3 linked regions of the Homo sapiens genome follow. The protein of the gene in region 1 interacts with the protein of each later gene in a biochemical or structural test. Each region holds a gene or a part of one and is shown on either strand. Other genes may lie near its edges.

Region 1 (6,858 bases):
GCCAAGCGCAGTGGCTCATGCCTGTAATCCCAGCACTTTGGGAGGATGAGGCAGGCAGATCACTTGAGGTCAGGAGTTCGAGACCAGCCTGGCCAACATGGTGAAATCCCATCTCTACTGAAAATATAAAAATTAGCCAGGCATGGTGGCGCATGCCTGTAATCCCAGCTACTCAGGAGGCTGAGGCAGGAGAATCACTTGAACCTGGGAGGCAGTGATTGTGGTGAGTTGAGACTACACCACAGCACTCCAGCCTGGGCGACAGAGCGAGGCTCCATCTCAAAAAAACAACAATAAAAAAATCCTATTAGGAATACAAAAGCTTAAATTAAAAACAAACAAAATACCGAGACTGAACTACAGTGGCCCTAGGATCTATTGTAAAACGCATGTTTAGTAAAGGCAACTAGTGTAATCTCAGACCAGTCTGTCAAGTTCTCTGCTACGGTTTACTGTTTCCAAAGATACAAAGCACTCACTCAACTCAGTAAATATTTTTTGGATACCTATGCAACAGGTGCTAAGGGAAATCCAAAGTTCCATGCTAAAAGATTGCTACCTGCAAGGATCTTGGTTTAGTAGAGAAGGGGAATCAGTTTCCAAAAAGACTGAGAAAGGTGTCACTTATTCCTGTGAGGGGCTTTAGAAGAATTAGTGGCAATATGAAAAAATATATACTTTCACAAAGCTTGAGTGGAAAAGAAAGTTGAAAAAGGGACATTAGCTGGAGGAGGATGTAGAATAAATACGTTGTTTTAGGATTTATTCAATACATTTTTATTTACCACATTTATTAGGTACTGTTTTACATCCTGGTGATTAAGCAGAGAATAAAATAGACAGAGCCCCTCTGTTTTAATTAGGGAATTGGCTAAGCTGCTCTACCAGGTCCAAACAAACAATGATTTTTTAAAGAACAAAGTTTATTTTCTCTTGCATAATGGTCCAGAAGTCTGTGGTTGATCCAAGGGAGGAGGTGCCCCAGCTCCCTGAGATTAGTTTGGGACTTAGGCTAGTGAGAACAGCTTTGCCTTCCTTAATACATGGCTTCCATTTCCAGTCTGTATTTCTTTTTGCCATTTGCCAGACAGCAAGAAGAGGGAAGAGAAAGTGTATAGCAAGCAGCTTTCCTTTTAAGGGACATGATCCAGTTCTACTCACATCTTACAGGACATAACTTTTTGATATAGCCTTACCTTGCTGAAAGGGAGGCCAAGGAATGTCATGTCTAAGTAGGTCACCAAGTGCCCTGCTCAAATTTGAATGTAGAGTTATTTCCTCTTACTAAAAAGAAAAAAAATACAGAATGAAAACTGGAGATAAGGAGAAGACACAGTCTAGAAGATAACTATAGGAAAGTAAAGAGATGGCGACGTATGTGAAGTTGTGGTGTCATAAAGACAACAACAAAGGAGCTAATTTATAGGTAGTCAGTGACAAGTGAGCAGTCTTGAGTAAAGGGAGAGTATGAGTCATGTAGATTTCTGCATTCCAGACAGAGGGAATAGCTAGTGAAGAAGCCCTGAGGCAAGAGCATGCTTGTCATGTTTAAGGAACAGTGAAGTCACAGGGATAAAAGACAAACCAGAAGAAAGTGATGATATGCAACAAAGTGAATGAGACATGTCAAGAGAGGAAGTAGTCAAGAACAACAGAAGTTGCAAGAGTGAAGCTTTGGCCATTGAAACTGGCAGCATGGAGCTCACAGGTGACCTTGACAAGTGGCAGTTTCGTGGCATGGTGGGCATGAAGGACTGAATGGAGTGAATTCAAGGGAGAGAGGGGGAAGTGGAATTACAGAGAGCAAATATGATCCTCTCCTTTGAAGAGAAAATGGGAATAACTTGAGTATGTGTTGAAAGTAAAGAACCAGTAGAAATGGAGAGGCAAAGATACATGGAAGTGAAGTAATTGATGGTGCAAGGTCCCAGAAGAGGAGATATACATGGGGTTCCTCCTCTTACTCTTTGTCACCTAAAAGAAGGTAAGAATGGTAGTGAATCAAGATGTTGGAGGAGGGAAGGAGGAAGCAGTGGGAGGTTGTGCAAATTCTAGCTAATAGTTTTAATTTTCTTTTCTGAAGTAGGAGGCAGTGTCATCTCCTGAGTGCAAGCAGAAAAGTTGTCCTCAACTATGTATAGTAGGAGTGGATAAGGAAGAGATTTGTATTGATCTGAGGTTTTGTGTGGGGGTTTGAGGCCAGGGTCAAAACCACTGAGAAGATTGGCAAGATAGTGTTTGAAGTGATGAATACTGTCATGTCTCCTCTCAGTAATACAGCACTTTCTTCAGCCTACATTCTTCTAATGGCAGGATTGGAAAGGCAATACTTTCCCCAAACTCATCATCTTATCAAAACCATCTGCCACCAAGATCATCAGGACTAAGCTCATTATGCTGTTTACAGCCATCACCACCACAAGCCCAAGACCACCCACTTTTAATCATGAACAGACAAGCAAAGACTGTCAGACATCTGAAGACTGCCTCGAGGTCAGACTCGTGACACCTGAGGCAGCACCATTCACTCAGTTTTGGGAACAAAAAACTTGGAATCCTCTTTCACCGTCATTCACTTGGTCAGTCACCAAGCTCTGTTCATCCCGCCTTCTAAGTATTCCCCAGGGCCCCCACTTCTCTCCATGCCCACTCTCCGTGCCACTGGTAACCTGCGTTTCTATCATCCCTCATTCTGATACTCTATCCCTCCAGCTCTCTGCGCAAAAACTGATCATACTGGCCGGGCACAGTGGCTCATGCCTGTAATCCCAGCACTTTGGGAGACCGAGGTGGGCGCATCACGAGGTCAAGAAATGAGACCACCCTCGCCAACATGGTGAAACCCCATCTCTCCTAAAAATACAAAAAATTACCTGGGCGTGGTGGCGCGCGCCTGTAGTCCCAGCTACTCGAGGTGCTGAGGCAGGAGAATCGCTTGAACCCGGGAGGCGGAGGTTGCAGTGAGGAGAGATCGCGCCATTGCATTCCAGCCTGGCGATATAGCCAGACTCCGTCTCAAAAAAAACAAAACAAAACAAAAAACTGATCATACCACTTGCCTGATTAAAAACTTTCGATGACTCTAACATTGCCTTTAGGTAAATGCCATCCAAACTCACTAAACTGGTTTCCAACCCGTTTCTGAAAGCACCTTAATCTCTCCCCACTTCCTCTGCTCATTCATCCATACCTACTGCCTCCTCACTGCTATGTCCTCTCTCCTGACCCGGCACTTGCTCTTTCCCAGTCCTAGAAGGCTCTTCTCTTCCAGTTCCCACTGCCCTTTTCCCTTTCCTGGCTAATCCCATACTCATCCTTCTTGTCTCAACCTAGTGGTCCTTAAGGAAGCTTTGCTGACCCCCGACACCGAGCGGGCGTCCCTCCTGTGTAGCACTGTGTTAGCCCTACCAAGTCAAGGCTCTCCTTGCCTGTTTCCTGCCGGAACCATGTCTTTTTACTTCACTCCTGTCTCCTCAGCATTCCAGCACAGTGCTGGGTACATAACAGGTGCTCAAGACAAGTTTGTGGAATGACTAATGAGTGAATAAATCATTAACCAAACACCTTGGATCTCCTACTACATCATTTGCAAAAAAAAAAAAATGTTTAATAGAAATTAAAATGGACCCAGTGAGCTAGAGTGTGTGACCCTGCTTAAAAACGACAGAGTGGTTCTGAGAAGCAGTCCCAGCCTAGGAACCCGGGGATCCGGCCTGTGGACCCACGGGCAGGGCCTGCGGGGTGCACCGGCGCTTTCGGGCGGAAGGCGGGGCCTCCCGGCCAGTGACCCCGCCCCGAGGCGCCTCCCGGGCGGGGAAGGGCGGGGCTCGCGCTGGGAAACTCCCCTTCCAAGGCCGAGGCGCCGCTGCGCGTCCTCCAGGCGTGGTGGTGGGGTCGTGGGTCCCAGCCCAGTGGTCCAGGTCACGGGCCGCACGGCCGCGGCCGCCATCTTGCCCGCGTCCGGGCTCCTGCGGCGGGCGGGGCGGTGTCCCGGCCGGAAGCGGCTGTGCGGCGGCCGCGCTGCCACCTCAGGTCAGTGAGCGCGACCCGGTTCGCGTCTCGACTCTCGGGAGCGCCGCGGCCGCAGCGAGGGGCCGGAGATAGCCTAGTTGAAAGGCCCGGGCGTCTCGGCGGGGAGCGCGTTCCGCGCTGTAGGGTAATCGCGCCGGGCGGCCGGCCGCCTGGCCGGGCCTCAGCGGGAGCCACCGGGGGCTGCGGGCGGCCGTGGGACCTGCGGAGACCTCCTCGGGGCGCAGGGAACACGCTACAGCCTTCGCCGCGGCGGGCTTGTGGGGAGCGGCGTCCCAGCCTTTCCCGGGAGGCTCAGCCAGGTGCCTGGAGCGGGAGAGTCGGACTCAGATTCCTGCTTTACCTAGAATAGCAACGTGCCCTGTTCCCGTTGTACCCTCTTAAATACTATACTTCTTAAACGGCCTGTCTCCCGGTGAGCTCTGTTCTCTTCTCATATGAGTAATGAAAATTAAGAGGATGAATGAAACCTCACACATGTTGTGGACTTTGCTGAATAGGTTAGCAAATGACTGCAGGCCTTTTGTATATTTTAAGGGAAATTTGGATATGTGCAGTGCATCTCCTCGAAGATGCTGATGGTGGAAATTTCTTGAAACCGCTCTCGTAATTTGCCACGGTAAGAAAAGTAAAAGACAACATCAAAAAGCATGTGGTTGGATCCTTTGTACACTGAGTAGTATTTTAATGTGTTGGACTTCACTGTCCAGTAGCCACATGGGATTGAGATGTGCTATAAGTGTAAAATACACATCGGATTTCCCAGAGTTGGTGCCAAAAAAACGTAAAAATCCTCAATAATTTTTGCATTGATTACATATTGAAAGGATAATGCTGTTGATATGTTGGCTAAATAAAATGTGTTTTTAAATTTCATTCCACCTAATTTTACTTTTTAAATGTGGCTACTAGAAATTTTTAAATCATATGGCTCACACTGTATTTCTTTTGGACAGTGCTGTTGCAAATATTCTGGTGAATGAACACAGAATCAGCATGGCTTTCCTTTGCTGAGAAATCACTGATGGGAAGTGAGACTTGTTAAACTTGAAAGGTGAGGATATAAATACAAGCTGTAATTATTGCAGACCGCACCCCTTCTACACCTAATTTTTTAATGTCTCCAAAATTTGGAAAAAACATTAACTTTCAGGGCTGATTAAGGGAATGGTAGTAATACTAACATCTGTGTGATGTGAAGAGCTCATTTCAGTTGATTGTCACAGCTTTGTGAGATGGAAATGGGATAGATTTTATCTCGGTTTTATGGTTTTGGAGTATTACAAGATTTGTTAGGATCTGAGCTGGGGAGTGGCTGTAGGATTTCTGACTCTAGATTGTTTTCTTTACACCAGATTCTTGGTGATGTATGTTCATGAGCAAGGAACTGTTTATCCTGTATATTACATGGTGAAAAAAAATACACTTCTTAAAAGGGTGGACATAGATGCACCTCTCTATACAGGGCTACTCTTATGATGTGCAACCTGTGCAGTAGCACAGAGCCCAGCATTTAGAATGGCTAGCACTTAGTTTAATGGCCAGTCTGCTGTCACTGTCTGGACATTGTAAATAATTTTTAAATGAGGGGCCCTGCATTGTTATTTTGCACCACGTCCTGCATATCGTGTAGCTGATCCTTTTCTTTGCAGTAATCTAGGACGGAAGTTGAGAGACCTTGGATAACCACCCAAACATCTGGTCTTCACTTTACTCCTTTGTGAAATTAGAAGATTTAGCTAGTCTTTTTCTCTCAAGTTTTGATTCTGTATGAATTACTGTCATCAGATTTTGTGGATGGCAATAGAAGTATTTTAGGTGCATAACATGGGAAGAAATGCTGATATTCTCCGTTGAGAGTCATGTAAATCAAAGTTTTAAATTTTATGCTAAAACTCGTATTTTATGTTTTGTAAGATGGATTTTTCTTTGTGGCATCAAGATTGCTTACCATAGACCATTGGTATAAAGAGTCGGGTTGTGGAATGAAAGCCTAGATAAAAAGTGTGTTTATTTAAACATTGATTTTTCAATGAGATGGGAAAATGGCCCAGATCTCATGATGTCTCCAATTAAGAGATTTCCTTTGTGGGGGTATGAGTATGAACCCTTATTTGGCAGTATCTGTTCCTCTTTGCTGTCGTAGCTGCTTCCTGTTACGTGAGGTGCCCCTCTTCCTCCTCATTCTTAAATTTTGAAACTCTTTTTAAGGTTGGACTTAATTTTATCACTACAGTGCAGGTTTTTTTTAGACCAGAGACTTCATCGGCTCATGTTTGCTGCTGTGTTCCCAGCTTCATAACCATGCCTAGAACATAGAAGGTGCCCAATCAATAGTCACAGAATAAATGAAAGTATAATAGCAGACATTTAAATCTTGGCCGGAGCCAGCCTCTCCTAGGGAGCGTAGAAGTGGAAGCATGAGGAAATAGGTAAAACTTGGAGATAGCAGTTGTGAGAAGTGTCAGAGGGATCATTCAGCACATGCATTTATTTAACAAATGTTTATTAACTTCCTACTAAGTGCCTAGCACTGTACTGGGGACTAGAGGTACAATGGAACACCAAAAATACTTCACCTGCTCTCATGGAGTGTATAATCCAGTAGAAGAGACAGAGATGGATGATTAAAGGGAAAGAATACTGTTTAATGACAGTGTATGTCTGAGTAACCAGACCTCGACTAGGGAGGGGATGGAGGGTGGTTGACGTCAAGGTTGAGCAGGTATTAACTTGGCCCAGAAGACAGGGAACTGTGCTCTAACCAGAGGAAACATCATTTGCAAAGGTATGGTGATGAGGGAGGAGGGTATATACTCTAGGAAGTGG
Region 2 (7,391 bases), on another chromosome or scaffold:
CCTTCGAAGTAGCTGGCGCACACCACCACGCCTGGCTAACTTTTGTATATTTTGTAGAGACAGGGTTTCAGGCTGGTTTTGAACTCCTGGGCTCAAGCAATCCATCTGCCTCGGCCTCCCAAAGTGTTAGTATTACAGGCATGAGCCACTGCATCTGGCCGAGAAAGTTATTCGGGAGCCCAATACTACCAGTACTAGAGTGAAGCCCTTGGAACTTTCTGAAGATACACACATCTGAAGGCAATGAGCTCCTGAAAGGGAGTGTGTGGTGAAGTGACAGGGAGTTAAGGGAGCTGCACGCCTGGGTCTTCTCTTGGACCTCGGGCACCTGACTCAAAGATCAGCACCCTGCTGTCTTCTAAGGATGCCACCACTCAAAGCAGAAACCGTCCGAAGGTCCTCTTTTCTCGAGAGAGGAATACACAGAAATCTCCCAGATAGGCCAGGTGCGGTGGCTCATGCCGGTAATCTCAGCACTTTGGGAGGCCAAGGCAGGTGGATCACCTGAGGTTAGGAGTTCAAGATCAGCCTGGCCAACATGCTGAAACTCTGTTTCTACTGAAAATACAAAAATTAGCTGGGCATGGTGGCGGGTGCCTGTAATCCCAACTACTAGGGAGGCTGAGGCAGGAGAATTGCTTGAACCTGGGAGATGGAGGTTGCAGTGAGCTGAGATCGTGCCACTGCACTCCAGCCTGGGCAACAGAGCAAGACTCCATCTCAAAAAAAAAAAAAAAAAAAGATAAGAAAAAGAAACCTCCCAGATAGCAGCAGTTTTCTCCACTGAGGAAACATGGCTTCTGTGTAAAGATCCCTCCCTCAAAGCCTTTTCTCCCTAGACCAGGCACTGACCCAGAGAGGGGTGTACAGTGTCTGATCTCAGGAACAGGCTCAGGCACCCCCTTGTGAGACACTCTGGAGAAAGCTGTGCGTGCCATGGCCACGTTCTGATAATAGCAAGCAAGTATCACGCAGTTACTATGTTCCAGTCACAGTGCTTCAGCTTTTGCTTGTATTCTGAGTTAATTCTCCCAACAATCCCTTAGAGATACTGTAAAATCCCCATGGGAAGAAACCACAGATCAGAGAAGTGATTACTGGCTAAGCCACACACTGCAAGTTAGCAGGAGGGCTGGGACATGAACCCAGCACTCTTGCTCTCTAGTGTTCAGGTGTTCTCAATAGTAACATTATTTCCATCTTTCCAAAGAAGTCACACAGCTGAGAAGCTGCAGGAGAAGAGCCATTCCTCCACATGGCGCTCCTAAATCACGGCAGAGAAGGGTAAGCAAGCTAACAAAAACCAGGGCACAAACTATACACCGACGGAGGTAGGATCCCCAGAAACCACGTTACTAAGAGAAAAGCAGGGATTTTCCTGGGGTCATAGCACTCCACCAAATCCCAGGTCCAGAATACAACTTCCACCACACTCTAGGCCTGTAAACTAAAGCAACTAGAAGCTCCTAGTGCCGTGCAATCTCCGAAATCATAAGGCCAAAGAACAAGATATTCAGTGGGGTTAATGAAGAAAGCCTCTTTCTGAGCCCATCGTGGGCCTCAATGTTCTTCCTGTAAAATGGGGCTATAGCGTAGCTTGTATTGCTGGTTTAGTCCTGAGGACTTAGGTTAAAGGCGAAAAAAACTCAGAGCCTGGTATCTAGTAGGTGCATAATAAATGATAAGATGTCCATTATCGCTGCTGCTGGTAGTGGTGGGGGAGTGCGAACTGTCAGTCTGGTTAGGTCCAGCCTAATTCCCGGTCTCCCTGCAAAGCCCCTGCGGGCTATGCCGGGATGCGAATGCGGGGGGGTGGAGGGGAGCGGCGCGAAGGGAGGGTGGGGGAGGAATTTCTGGAAAACAAACTTCTGGGCCTTCAGACCACTTACTTAGCAGGGCGCAGCCTAACCCGCGCTTGGCTTCGGAAGCCGCGACCAGGGTTGTCCCCTCTCCCCCCAGCTTTGGCTGCCGCCGCCGCGTACCGGGCGGCCCGCCAAGCCCCCAGAGCCCCTGCGCTCTCCCTCCAAAGCAGGAGTGCGGTGGACATAGGATGAGGTCGACTTTCACTGGCCAGTCCCAGGTGCCTACGCCCCGCGCTGGGGGACAGGAGCCGGGAGGCACCCCAGGAAGGGTCCTCTGCCCGCCGGCCCCCGCGAAGAGGAAGGGACTCCGCGGAAGGGGGCGGGGAGGAGGAGTGGTCTGGCCGCTCCGGCCGGGATTTGCCTGGACTTGAAGACGCTCAGGAGCCCAAAGCTCGGAGAGCCTCCAGAAGGCTTCTCCCTCATTGGCCAGGAGTCCGAGGGAGCCGAGGAAGGATCCGCGGCCCTGGGGTGGGGCGGTGAGGGAGAGGGGGAGAGGGAGGGAGGAGGGGGAGAGGGAGGGGGAGAAGGAGGGAGAGGGGAGACAGAGTGGGGGAGGGGTGCCGAGGGCCGCGGCTGCCAGTTGATGCAACCCGGGTCCCGGGTTACGCGCTCGGCTTTCCCTCCCCGAGCCCAGGACACACCGACTCAGCTCCGGACAGCCTGAGGCTCAGACGCGGTTCGGGGTTCCAGGGAAGAGGGGCGTCGCGCGGCCGCCGCTTACCTCTCCGGGGCCCGAGTCGCCGACGCCGCCCGGGGCGAACCGCAGGTAGTCCTTGAGCTCTGCGCGGCACTCGGAGTCCGCCACGATCATGGTGCGCGCCAGGACCCGGTCGCGGCTCGCCGACGACCCGTGCACCCGAGTGGGTTTCGGAGGGACGCCCGAATGAAGCCGGGACTGGGCGCCGCCGGGGAGCTTCTAGAACCCCGGGGCGTCTCTCGGGGCTCCAGAACGCTCCGGAATCCGAGAACGGCCGCTTTGGTGCTGGACTCTTCCCCCAGTCGGGCTTCGGGAACGGCGAACGGCCTCGGGGGCCTGGGAAGGGCCGCAGCGCAGGGGTTTTCACGGCCTCGGAAGTCCGCAGGGGCCAGGGCTGCTCCCGGACCCAGCGCTCCTCAGCATCCCCGCCGCGGAACTGCCAGCGCTCGCCGGGCTCTGACACCAGCAGTTCAGCCCGCTGCGGTCCCCGGGGGAGGGCGGGGACACAAAAGCCCGGCGGTCCAGCCAATCAGAGGTCTGTTTCCCCGGGGAGGCGGGGGAAACTCCGCCCCCTGGAGTCACGGGCTCCGCCAATCAGCACCGGGGAGCGCCCGGAATTCTGGGAGTTGTAGTCCGCCTCGGGTGAATGCTGCAAACTTTTGCAAGACGGTTTAGTCAGATCCCTGGCAACACCAGACGGCAGTGACAGCCCTAAGAGTCATTAGGGTTGCGTGATGAAAAGGGACTTCACTGGGCTAGGCCAAACAGCCGAGTGTGAAATCTCCTAAATGAATTCTTCATCTTTTCAGTTCCTGGAGGGACTGGCTAGGGTTAAGAGAGGTTTGGCTCGCGTCCTATCCGGTGCTGCTAATTATAGAACTGAACCCCAGATATTTAGAGGTCAGAGGGCACAACCCTGCTCCCCCTGGCCTCGGGGAAGCTCCAAAGATGCGAGACACAGGGAATTCACCTTATTTGTGGAGCCTCAGGAAAAGCCTTCATTCCTTGAAATGTCATTGGTAACTTCGTGTGGAACCTCAATCCCTATTGCTGGAAGTTTTCTTCCTTCTGCTACCCGTCCTGGCTTCCACCCCTCCCACCCTCCTCGAAACTTTGTAACAAGGTGTTCTGCTGGATCTTTGCTCACCTCTCCCTCTGGCCTTCTCTGACTCCTCTTTCACCACCCACTTCCTAAAACGTGGGTGCTTCCCCAGTTTGTTTTTGCCCCTCTTCCCTCCAGACACTCTCCCTGATCTCATTCACTTCCTGGCCTTCAACTCGCCTCTTGCCAGAAAGTTGCCTCTACCAACACCTCAGCACCTCCAAGCTAAATTCATTTTCTATTCATTTCAAACGGAGCCTCTTCCTTCACAGTTTTCCTTCAGAGCTCCTTTTTTTGTTTCCATTTTAAAGTTATTGTTTATTCTAGACAGGGAATCCTGCCAGGGGTGAGGGTGGATAAGACCCCCAAGTCCCCCTCTGAGACTTCTAAGTCTAAGCTTACAATTCCAAAGATGAAACCGACTTGGTTTCCTGCCTCCAGATTCTTGGGAAAAAGAGATTAATCTCACCCTCCCCTGAGCTCCCAAGGCACTTGAGCTGGATCTCTTTTCACATGTATCACATTCTACCTAGTTTTTTTTGTTTTTTGTTTTTTTGTTTTCTGTTTTTTTGTTTTTGTTTTTTGTTTTTTAGTAAATAGAGACAGGGTCTCAATATGTTGCCCAGGCTGGTCTCAAACTCCTGAGCTCAAGCGATTCTCTCACCTCAGCCTCCCAAAGTGCTAGGATTATAGGCATGAGCCACCATGTCCAGCCACATTCTGCCTTGTATTGTAATTTTCTATGTACATGTTTTATCTGACCCTTTTTTCTTTTTATTAGTATTGTTTTTTAGAGATGGGGTCTAGCTCTGTCACCCAGACTGGAGTACAGTGGCATGATCATAGCACGCTGCAGCTTCAAATTCCTGGGCTCAAGCGATATTCCCTCCTCAGCCCCCCAAATCAATCACTGGGGTTACAGGTGTGCACCACTGAGTCTGGCTTATCTGATCTTTTTAATTGTAAACTCCTTGAGGGCAGGGTCAACATCTTTTTTTTTTTTTTTTTTTTTTTTTTAAACAGAGTCGCACTCTGTCTCCCAGGCTGGAGTGCAGTGGCCCGATCTTGGCTCACTGCAACCTCTGCCTCCCAGGTTCAAGCAATTCTCCTGCCTCAGCCTCCTGAGTAGCTGGGATTACAGGCAAGTGCCACCACACCCGGCTAATTTTTGTATTTTTAGTGGAGACAGGGTTTCACCATGTTGATCAGGCTGGTCTCGAACTCCTGACCTTGTGCTCTGCCCGCCTCAGCCTCCCAAAGTGCTGGCATTATAGGCATGAGCCACCGCGCCTGGCTGGCAGGGTCTACATCTTGACATCCATCTCCTGCTCTATGTCACCTAGCAAAATGTCCTGACAATCATATGCCCTTGGTCACGGAATCTTCCTTTGCATCAACTTCCTCTCTAAACTACCCTGTGTCAGCTTCAGCTTTCATTTAAAAAATTTACTATGTGGCCAGGCGTGGTGGCTCACGCCTGTAATCCCAGCACTTTGGGAGGCCGAGGTGGGCGGATCACGAGGTCAGATCAAGACCATCCTGGCTAACATGGTGAAACCCCGTCTCTACTAAAAATACAAAAAATTAGCCAGGCGTGGTGGCGGGTGCCTGTAGTCCCAGCTACTTGGGAGGCTGAGGCAGGAGAATGGCGTGAACCCAGGAGGCAGAGCTTGCAGTGAGCCGAGATCGTGCCACTGCACTCTAGCCTGGGTGACAGAGTGAGATTCTGTCTCAAAAAAAAAAAAAAATTTACTATGTAATGTCAAAGTCCAGATCAAAAGGCTTCACTGGTATTTCATCAGCTACAGAATTAAGATCAAACTCCTTGGGTGGGCATGGTGGCTCACGCCTGTGATCCCAGCACTTTGGGAGGCAAAGGCAGGCAGATCACCTGAGGTCAGGAGTTCAAGATCATCCTGGCCAACATCGTGAAACCCCATCTCTACTAAATATACAAAAATTAGCCAAGCGTGGTGGTGCACGCCTGTAGTCCCAACTACTCGAAAAGCTGAGGCAGGAGAATCGCTTGAACCCGGGAGGCAGAGGTTGCAGTGAGCTGAGATCGTGCCACTGCACGATCTGGGTGTCAGAGCGAAACCCTGTCTCAAAAAAAAAAAAAAAAAAAATCAAACTCCTATCTTAACATTCAAGGTTTGCCAAGATGCACCTAATTTACCCTCCCATTCTTACCACCTGCAACATCCATGTTTCTTGTTTGGCCTTCAAATCTTTCTTTCAGTACTCTTCTTGCAAATCTCTACCCATTGAAATAGTATCCATCATTCAATGCCTTCATTCCTGTTTGTGGCCTGAAGCAAGACTTTAAATGACACCTCCTCCAAAAAGCTCAGCTGAAAGTAATCTCACCCAGTCCTCAACATCTTCAACACATTCTTTTTATCTCTTTCTACCACTGATCTCCAAACTTGGTGTATGCTTGATATCATGTGTATATATCTCACCACTTCCCTCCAACTGATGATAAAAATCTCTCATTGACCACGTGTACAAAGTGAGAAAACTTGAGCTCAGAAAGGTAAAATTGGCCAGGCTTGGTGGCTAACATCTGTAATCCCAGCATCTGGGGAGGCCAAAAGGGAGGATCCCTTGAGCCCAAGAGTTCGAGACCAGCCTGGTCAACATGGAGAAACCCTGTATTCACAAAAACTACAAAAATCAGCAGGGTGTGGTGGCATGTACCTATAATCTCATGTACTTGGGAGGCTGGCCAACATGGTAAAATCCCATCTCTACCAAAAACATAAAAATTAGCCGGGTGTGGTGCGAGAGCCTGTAATCCCAGCTACTCGGCAGGCTGAGGCAAGGGAATAGCTTGAACCTGGGAGATGGAGGTTGCAGATTGTGCCACTGAATCAAAAATAAAAATAAAAATAAAAACAAAAATTGCTTATCAGGGTCACACAGTATCTTCTTTTGACTGCACAAGGCTGTGTTAGAGCACTTTTTTTTTGTTTGTTTGTTTTTTGTGAGACGAAGTGTCCTTCTTGTTGCCCAGGTTGGAGTGCAATGGTGTGATTTCGGCTCACGGCAACCTCCGTCTCCTAGGTGCAAGCAATTCTCCTGCCTCTGCCTCCCGAGTAGCACCACCACGCCCGGCTAATTTTTTATTTTTAGTAGAGATGGGGTTTCTCCATGTTTGTTAGGCTGGTCTTGGACTCCCGACCTCAGGTGATCCACCAGCCTCAGCCTCCCAAAGTGCTGGGATTATAGGTGTGAGCCACGGTGCCCAGCCGGCTGTGCCAATTTCTTAAAATAAGACAATAATAAAGTTGGCCACAAGGATCCACTCTTCCTTCCATGAAAGATTTCTCTGTAGCATGTGATACTGTTTGGTAACATGTTACCTACAGCAGAACTTCTTTCAAAATTGGAGTCAATCTTCTCAAACCCTGCTGCTGCTTTGTCAACTAAGCTTATGTAATATTCTAAATCCTTTGTTGTCATTTCAACAATGATCATAGCATCTTCACAGGAGTAGATTCCATCTCAAGAAACCACTTTCTTTGCTCAGCCATAAGAAGCAACTCCTTAAAGAAACAAAAAAAGAAAAGTCAGCCTGGGCCAACATGGGGAAACCCCGTCTCTACTAAAAATACAAAAATTGGCCAGGCGCAGTGGCTCACGCCTGTAATCCCAGCTCTTTGGGAGGCTGAGGTGGATGGATCACGAGGACAGAAGTTCAAGACCAGCCTGGCCAAGATGGTGAAAC
Region 3 (7,034 bases), on another chromosome or scaffold:
AGCCGGTACTACAGGTACAAACTGCCGTGCCCAAAAAAATCACAGAATTTTAACTCTAGAAGCAATCTTGGGACTATTTCCTCATATTAAGGAAGAGAAGCGTGGGCAATATAGCAAGACCCCATCTCTACAAAAAAAATTAAAAAATTAAGCAGGCATGGTGGCATGTGTCTGTAGTCCTAGCTACTCAGGAAGCTGAGGCAGGATGATCGCTTGAGCCTAAGAGTCTCAGGTTACAGTGAGCTACAATCACGCCACTGCACTTCAGCCTGGCAACAAAGCAAGACCCTGTTTCTTAAAAAAAAAAAAAAAAAAAAAAAGAGAAAAAAGAGGGCACTCATATGTTAAGTGACTAAGCCAAGTTCACAAAGCTTATTAGAAGTAATTTTAGTGCCAGAATCCAAATTAAATGTCCTCCCCCTTAGTCTAGGATGTTTTCACTTATGACCTTTTCTTAGTTGCTTGCTTTAAAAATTATTTGTAAATAGGAATACCTATGCAATAGTCTCTCTAAAAGGAAGGACATATTTAGATTGATGCTTTAAAAGTTATTTAAATTCTCTAAATAAAAAGTTGAGTTTGCAATAATTATATTGACTATATAATGGTTGTTCTTACCTGAAGAGAAGACAAACATACTCTCTCTTTTTTCTATTTCAAAACGTGAAGCCATCTCTTCCTGACTTGCCTCTTCTTCATCTCGACATTCCTGTAACTGCCTCATCTTTTCCATGAGGGCTTCAACCTCAAAGAAAGAATCACTTACCTGAAGAAAAAATACAATTAATGTTACATGTGGCAGACATAGAATATATATGAATTATCTTTTAAGTCTGTCTCATAAGAATTTATATCTTTTTTTTTTTTTTTTTTTTTTGAGACAGAGTCTTGCTCTGTTGCCCAGGCTGCAGTGCAGTGGCGCGATCTCGGCTCACTGCAAGGTCCACCTCCCAGGTTCACGCCATTCTCCTGCCTCGGCCTCCCGAGTAGCTGGGACTACAGGTGCCTGCCACCATGCCCGGCTAATTTTTTGTGTTTTTTAGTAGAGACGGGGTTTCACCGTGTTAGCCAGGAATGGTCTCGATCTCCTGACCTTGTGATCTGTCCACCTCGGCCTTCCAAAGTGCTGGGATTACAGGCGTGAGCCACTGCACCTGGCCAGAATTTATATCTTAGTAGAATATAGGGAAAATATTCCTATAATTTTAATGTACATGAATGAATAAAAAACTACTTTGGCCTATTAGGAATACAGACATGCAGATTTTAAAATATAAGGAAAAAAATGATTTTAAGAACACATTCTAATGCTTTTACCTTATAAAATTAGCAATAATGTCATTACCATTTATGCTGTTTTAAACTACTTGTCAATTTAAAGCAGAACTGCGTAAGATAACTTCTACTTGCTTAATCTTTAAATAAATAAGATACACAAAGTATAAGTGATTTTGCATCAACTGTGTACACTGGGCATACATATTGTCAATGTGTCTATCATCTTTAATAATTAGCTTTATTTCTACAATTTACCAATTAAACATGAAAGATGTCTACATGGCTGGAGTTGGCCACCTGACCTCTGCAAATGGATCTGGCAGCTGTCACTTGCTGGGATGACTAGAGCAGTGTCACACATAGAGTAATGGGGCTGACAAAGGACTGGCCAAGTGGTTTTGCACTAGTCAAACTGGTTATACTTCTATACCCTGCTGCATTCTTGCTACAAAAGCTAGATCAAATCTATGCAATTTATACCTTTCTTATAAAATGAATATATTAAGAAGTCTGGGTTGGGCTAGTGGCTCATGCCTGTAATCCCAGCATTTTGGGAGACCAAGGCAGGAGAATCACTTGAGCCCAGGAGGAGTTCAAGGCTGCAGTGAGCTGTGATTGTGCCACTGTATTCCAGCCTGGACAACAGAGAGAGACTTTGTCTCAAAAAGAGAAAAAAAAGTCTTAATCTCAAATCTCAATGTATACATACAAAATTAATGTTTCCCCCCTTATAAATTTATTTTGCCAGGAATGCTTTTAAGACCTCTATCTTCCATTCTTCCTGGCTTCCACCCATTGATCCTTCAGGTAGCAGCTTACATCCTTGTAAACACTGTCATTTACCCCACAAGCTCCAATTATTCTAACACAACCCTCTCCTCTTTCCTTCAGAGGACCAATCATAATTTATAATTGTTACTCGCATGATATTGATTTAATGCAGGCTCCCTTCCCAGACCAAACCTTCATAAAGGTAGGAAATCTGTTTGGTTTACTTGTATATATCCCAAGCCTAGCATAGTACCTGGTACATAGTAGATATTCAAGAAATACTTGCTGGAGAATGACTCTCAGGATAATTCTATATTAAGAGACAATCTATATCACTTGTGCTTTACATTTTCTTTTGATCCAAACAGTTATACTGAAATGCCCAGTATTAAGCCCTTTCTCTAAGACTTTCATGATGGGAAGTGTTTCTATGACGATACTGAAGATTCTTGTGGTGCATGCATGCATTTTCCCCAGTTATTCCTGACATAGAGTCAGTAACCAAATAAAAAATAGCTGAAAAGGATTAGGTTTCATGACAGGATGACTCAAAGTTTAAAAAAGATCTCTGTCAACTCACATTATCTGTCACTAATTTATTTTGTTTACCTATTCTCCTCTTAAAGAGCCCAAATTTTAAGTATTCTTAGGAAAGGTAATTCTTGATAAATTATATTGAAATAAGAGGGAAAGGAAACAAAGTAGGTTTCTTTGTTCCTTCACTGATCTGCTAAAGTTGGGATTAAAAAAAAAATGGCATTTCATTTTAATATTAAAATGTTAAAATTGTGTAAGAAAACTCTTTTTTCTTTCCCTTTATAAATTACCCAGTCTTGGGTATGTCTTTATTAGCAGCATGAGAACAGAATAATACACCAACACTTAGAAGCAACCAATGTGTTCTTCAGTAGCTACTGGAATAAAGAAATGTTGCTACATCCAGAAAATGAAAAATTATTCAGTGCTAAAAAGAAATTAGGTATCAAGCCATGAACAGACATGGAAGAAATTTAAATGTATATTACTAAGTGAAAGAAGCCAATCTGAAAAGGCTACGTACTGTATGATTCCAACTATATAACATTCTGGAAAAGACAACTATGGAGAGAGTAAAGAAATGAATAAGTAGTTTCCAGGGTTGGGAGGGAGGGAAAATTCTTGTTTGTTACCATTTGTATCTGAAGAGCTGAGTCAGATACTGGATATGTACCTAAAGAACAAGCCATATCAGCTCACTGTCAAAGTGTCATCAGGGTAGGCCATAAACCTTCTAAAAGTATCCAACTTACCTGGGAATAGGAAGCTTATTAGAGAAATAAAAATTATCTTCTTTCACTATTCATTCTTTTAATAGAAGGAGAACTAGAAACAATCAAGTACTTTTTTCTTTAGCCTTGTACTAAATTATTGGTAGCAAGGAGAAGAATCCATCTCCTAGCATTCTAGCAACTGAATACTCTCTTGGATCCTCTTCTGACTGCCAAGCTTTGAAAAATAATCAGTGGCCATATGCAGGCCTATAACATGAATCTAGGCAGCTCAAAGGAGGGTGAAACTGATGGTCTTTGGCAGTCCTATGATCAACCTTGGGAAAATTATTCTTTCTTGTGCTAATTTCACCATATGTAAATGCTACCTCTTATTTAGCACCTGACAAATGCTAAGTGCTGTACTTGGCATTTTACTTCTTTAGAGACATTTCATTTAAACCTCACAATAACTTTGTGTTTTACTTTTATTTAGATACAAAAGAACTGAGATTCAGTAACTTGCCCGAAGTCAAATATATAAATTAAAGGCAATTCAACCTGTCAAATCTATTTCAAAGGGATAATATAACTCAGAAAATGCATGTAAAGCATTCAGATGGCTGTGGTACTGCTTCTAAAATTTATTTTTGAAGCATAAAATAAACCCTTGCTTTTTCACTACAACAAAAGAATGCAGAAGGAGATTTTGATTCATCATATACAGGAATTAAAATTTGCTTATAGAAAACTGAACTTGCTCTGTTTCAAAGGAGTAACAAAACTAAGAATATATAAAAGCCAGGAACAGAAGGAATAGAGGTGAAAGCATTTTAACACATTTACATTCACCTGATATCACCTTCTATATTGGTGCAAAGTTAAACATGAAAAAGAATTCTGAAGAGAGAAATTTCTAGATCAAAGTTGATTAAATCTTCTGAAATATAAAAAATTAAGAAGCCAGACTGTTTATTTTGTGCAAAAGAGAAGAATGTGATTGGCACAAAAAGTCTCCACCACCAGGCCACACTATTTTCAGCCTTCCCTCATGTCACTGCAGTAGCCAATCAATATTATTTGGTCCTGACGGGACACATGCTGTTGGCTCCTGATCCTAAAATTATCTAAATGTAAACTCCTACAGGGTCTTAGAGTTTTGTACATCACTTTTGTAAAATGTTGTATATCACCTAGACTAGTGATGAGCATGTGAGGCAGTCAATAAAACCCTACTGAATGAATAGATATAGGGGCCCAATATCTCCACAGTCTTAACAGGGTGGGTTTTTCTAAGAAGCCAACTGAAGAAATAATATAACAGCAATTATTGTGATTAGTTTTATGACAATCTCATGACAAATAATACTTACAGAAACATTTTCTGCTGAGTTGACCGGCATCTCATCCACACTGTGATTGCCATTTGTAATGTCACAGATGCAGTAGTTGCTAACAGAAGGAGGTCTGAATGTGTGGCCACCATCACAATGAATTTCTGGACTGATTCCACAGCCGAATGTGAATGAGGCAAGAGAATGATAGTGTGTGAGTAAAACTACTGCATGTACCAATTCCGCAAGGGACCAGCTGTGCTCTTCAGCTTTTAAAAGTCCCTTAGGGGGAAAAAAAAAAAGAATATATTTTTGTACTGGGGTGTGGTAAAAGTATACAGTTCATTTTAGTATTTAATTTATTGAAAACATGAGTCATCATACAAAGCCTAGCATAAAATTATCATTTGAAACATGTAGAACCCAGAATTTGCTAATTTTTATGAATATGCATTCACAAATAGAACTTAACATAATCTGTTAAGACATTCACTATTATTTTGATTTTCTGAAATATTGACTTAAAATGTAAGAGAATGCATTTTGCTTAAAAGTGGCTGCTGTATTTCAGATGCTGGATTATGAATGAATTACTGTGTTGTTAGTTCAAAATCTCAAAGCAAATGTAATAAATTTGTGTTTAAAAGTAGAAGCTGCTGTGTGAAACGCCTGTGCTTTGTTTATTATAAGGCCTCCTCAAGGAATTTTTAAGATAGTGGCTTGAACAACTTGATTAAATATTCCTAAATCATCAAAAAGTTATATATAACTTCTATAATTCTTCTATTCAATTCTGTGTCACTTCTGCTTCATTATCTATTTTGTAATCTTGTATAATTTTTCCTTACTTGACAATATATAATAGGCATTGTATTAATATATTCAAATCTTGTATCTTCTTGATAATATCTTTAATTATCTAATAGTATCTATTCTATGAAATAGATAAGACCAAAAGATGCATCTCTAAGAATTTATAGTGCATGGTAGACAATTTTAGAGAACATCAATCTACTTTTACTCTATTATCTCTATTAATAAATAGAACCAGAACTAGCTTAACATGGCATTTAAAACGTAACATAAAGATGCATAACAATGAGATGCCACTTCACACTTATCAGAATGGCTGAAATCCAAAACACTGACACCAATGCTGGCCAAGATGTGGGACAACAGGAATGCTGCTTCATTGCTGGTGGGAATGCAAACTGATACTGCCCTTTGGAAGAGTTTTACAGTTTCTTACAAAGGTAAACGTAGGCTTACCGTATTATCCACAAATCGCACACCTAATTATTTATCCAAATGAGGTGAAAACTTTTGTCGACAAAAAACAAGAAACAAAAACCTATACATGAATGTTTACAGCAGCTTTATCCGTAATTGCCCCAAACTGGCAGTAACCAAGATGTCCTTCAATAGGTGAATGGATAAACAAACTATGGCATAACTATACAATAGAGAATTATTCAGTGATAAAAAGAAATGAACTATCAAGTCGTGAAAAAGCATGAAGAAGCCTTAAATGGATGTTGCTAGATGAAAGAAGCCAGTCTGAAAAGCTACATACTTTTGTATGATTCCAGCTGTATGACATTCTGGAAAAGGCAAAACTATATAGAAACAATAAAAAGATGAGTGGTTGCAGGGGTTTAGGGGAAGGGGAAAGGGGGGGAAAGGGATGAACAGGTGGAACCCAGGGCATTTTTAGGGTACTAACTATTCCATATGATATTGTAATGGATGCGTGACATTAGGCATTTGTCAAAATGTGTAGAACGATACAATGCAAAGACTGAACCCTAATGTGAACTATAGAGTTACTAGTAATATATCAATTACAGCAAATGTACCACAGAAATGCTGTAACAGAAGAAAATGTGCATCTGTGGGAAGAGATTCAGGGGGTAGAAAATAGGAACTCTCTGTACTTTCTGTGCGATTTTTCTGTAATCCTAAAACTGCTCTAAAAAAGTCTGAAATGACTCCCAAGATATATTACCCCACTGCTTACCTCAATGTGTTCTTTGGTAATAAGCCAAGGTCTATGGGCTAACACTTTGTTAAGTTCTCCTAAATTCTGTAGTTTTTGAGGAGCATTCTCTAAACCATTGAGCCACTTGGGGTCCCCACCAACATGAAGGAAATCATTTACATGCAGGTTCACTAAGTAGGAGCACTGATGTCTTGCCGCAGCCTTAAAACAAAAAGATTATTCTAATTATAAATATTAAAACCTTGAACTACATATCCTTTTTATTTACAACATGCAAAAGAGCTAATTAAGTTTATTAGTATGTTTTCAAATTTTCCGTAAACTACAGAAATGCAGTTTTTATATAAACATTTTAAAAATTCAAATACTGTAAGAACCTTAGAAATATTCCAAGAACAAACAAAA

The links.
Region 2: the proteins of MIOS (region 1) and SESN2 form a complex in vitro, tested with the Homo sapiens proteins (one study listed by BioGRID).
Region 3: the proteins of MIOS (region 1) and SESN1 form a complex in vitro, tested with the Homo sapiens proteins (one study listed by BioGRID).

Annotation. Positions count from the first base shown.
Region 1 is NC_000007.14:7,563,041-7,569,898, forward strand, and holds the start of MIOS (GATOR2 complex protein MIOS), read left to right. Parts: upstream 1-3,843; 5' UTR 3,844-4,032; exon of another isoform or gene 4,033-4,566; 5' UTR 4,567-4,648; intron 4,649-4,985; 5' UTR 4,986-5,083; intron 5,084-6,858. UniProt on the Homo sapiens protein: As a component of the GATOR2 complex, functions as an activator of the amino acid-sensing branch of the mTORC1 signaling pathway. The GATOR2 complex indirectly activates mTORC1 through the inhibition of the GATOR1 subcomplex.
Region 2 is NC_000001.11:28,255,130-28,262,520, reverse strand, and holds the start of SESN2 (sestrin-2), read right to left. Parts: upstream 3,004-7,391; 5' UTR 2,674-3,003; coding exon 2,584-2,673; intron 1-2,583. UniProt on the Homo sapiens protein: Functions as an intracellular leucine sensor that negatively regulates the mTORC1 signaling pathway through the GATOR complex. In absence of leucine, binds the GATOR subcomplex GATOR2 and prevents mTORC1 signaling.
Region 3 is NC_000006.12:108,993,844-109,000,877, forward strand, and holds part of SESN1 (sestrin-1), read right to left. Parts: intron 6,831-7,034; coding exon 6,648-6,830; intron 4,913-6,647; coding exon 4,670-4,912; intron 767-4,669; coding exon 619-766; intron 1-618.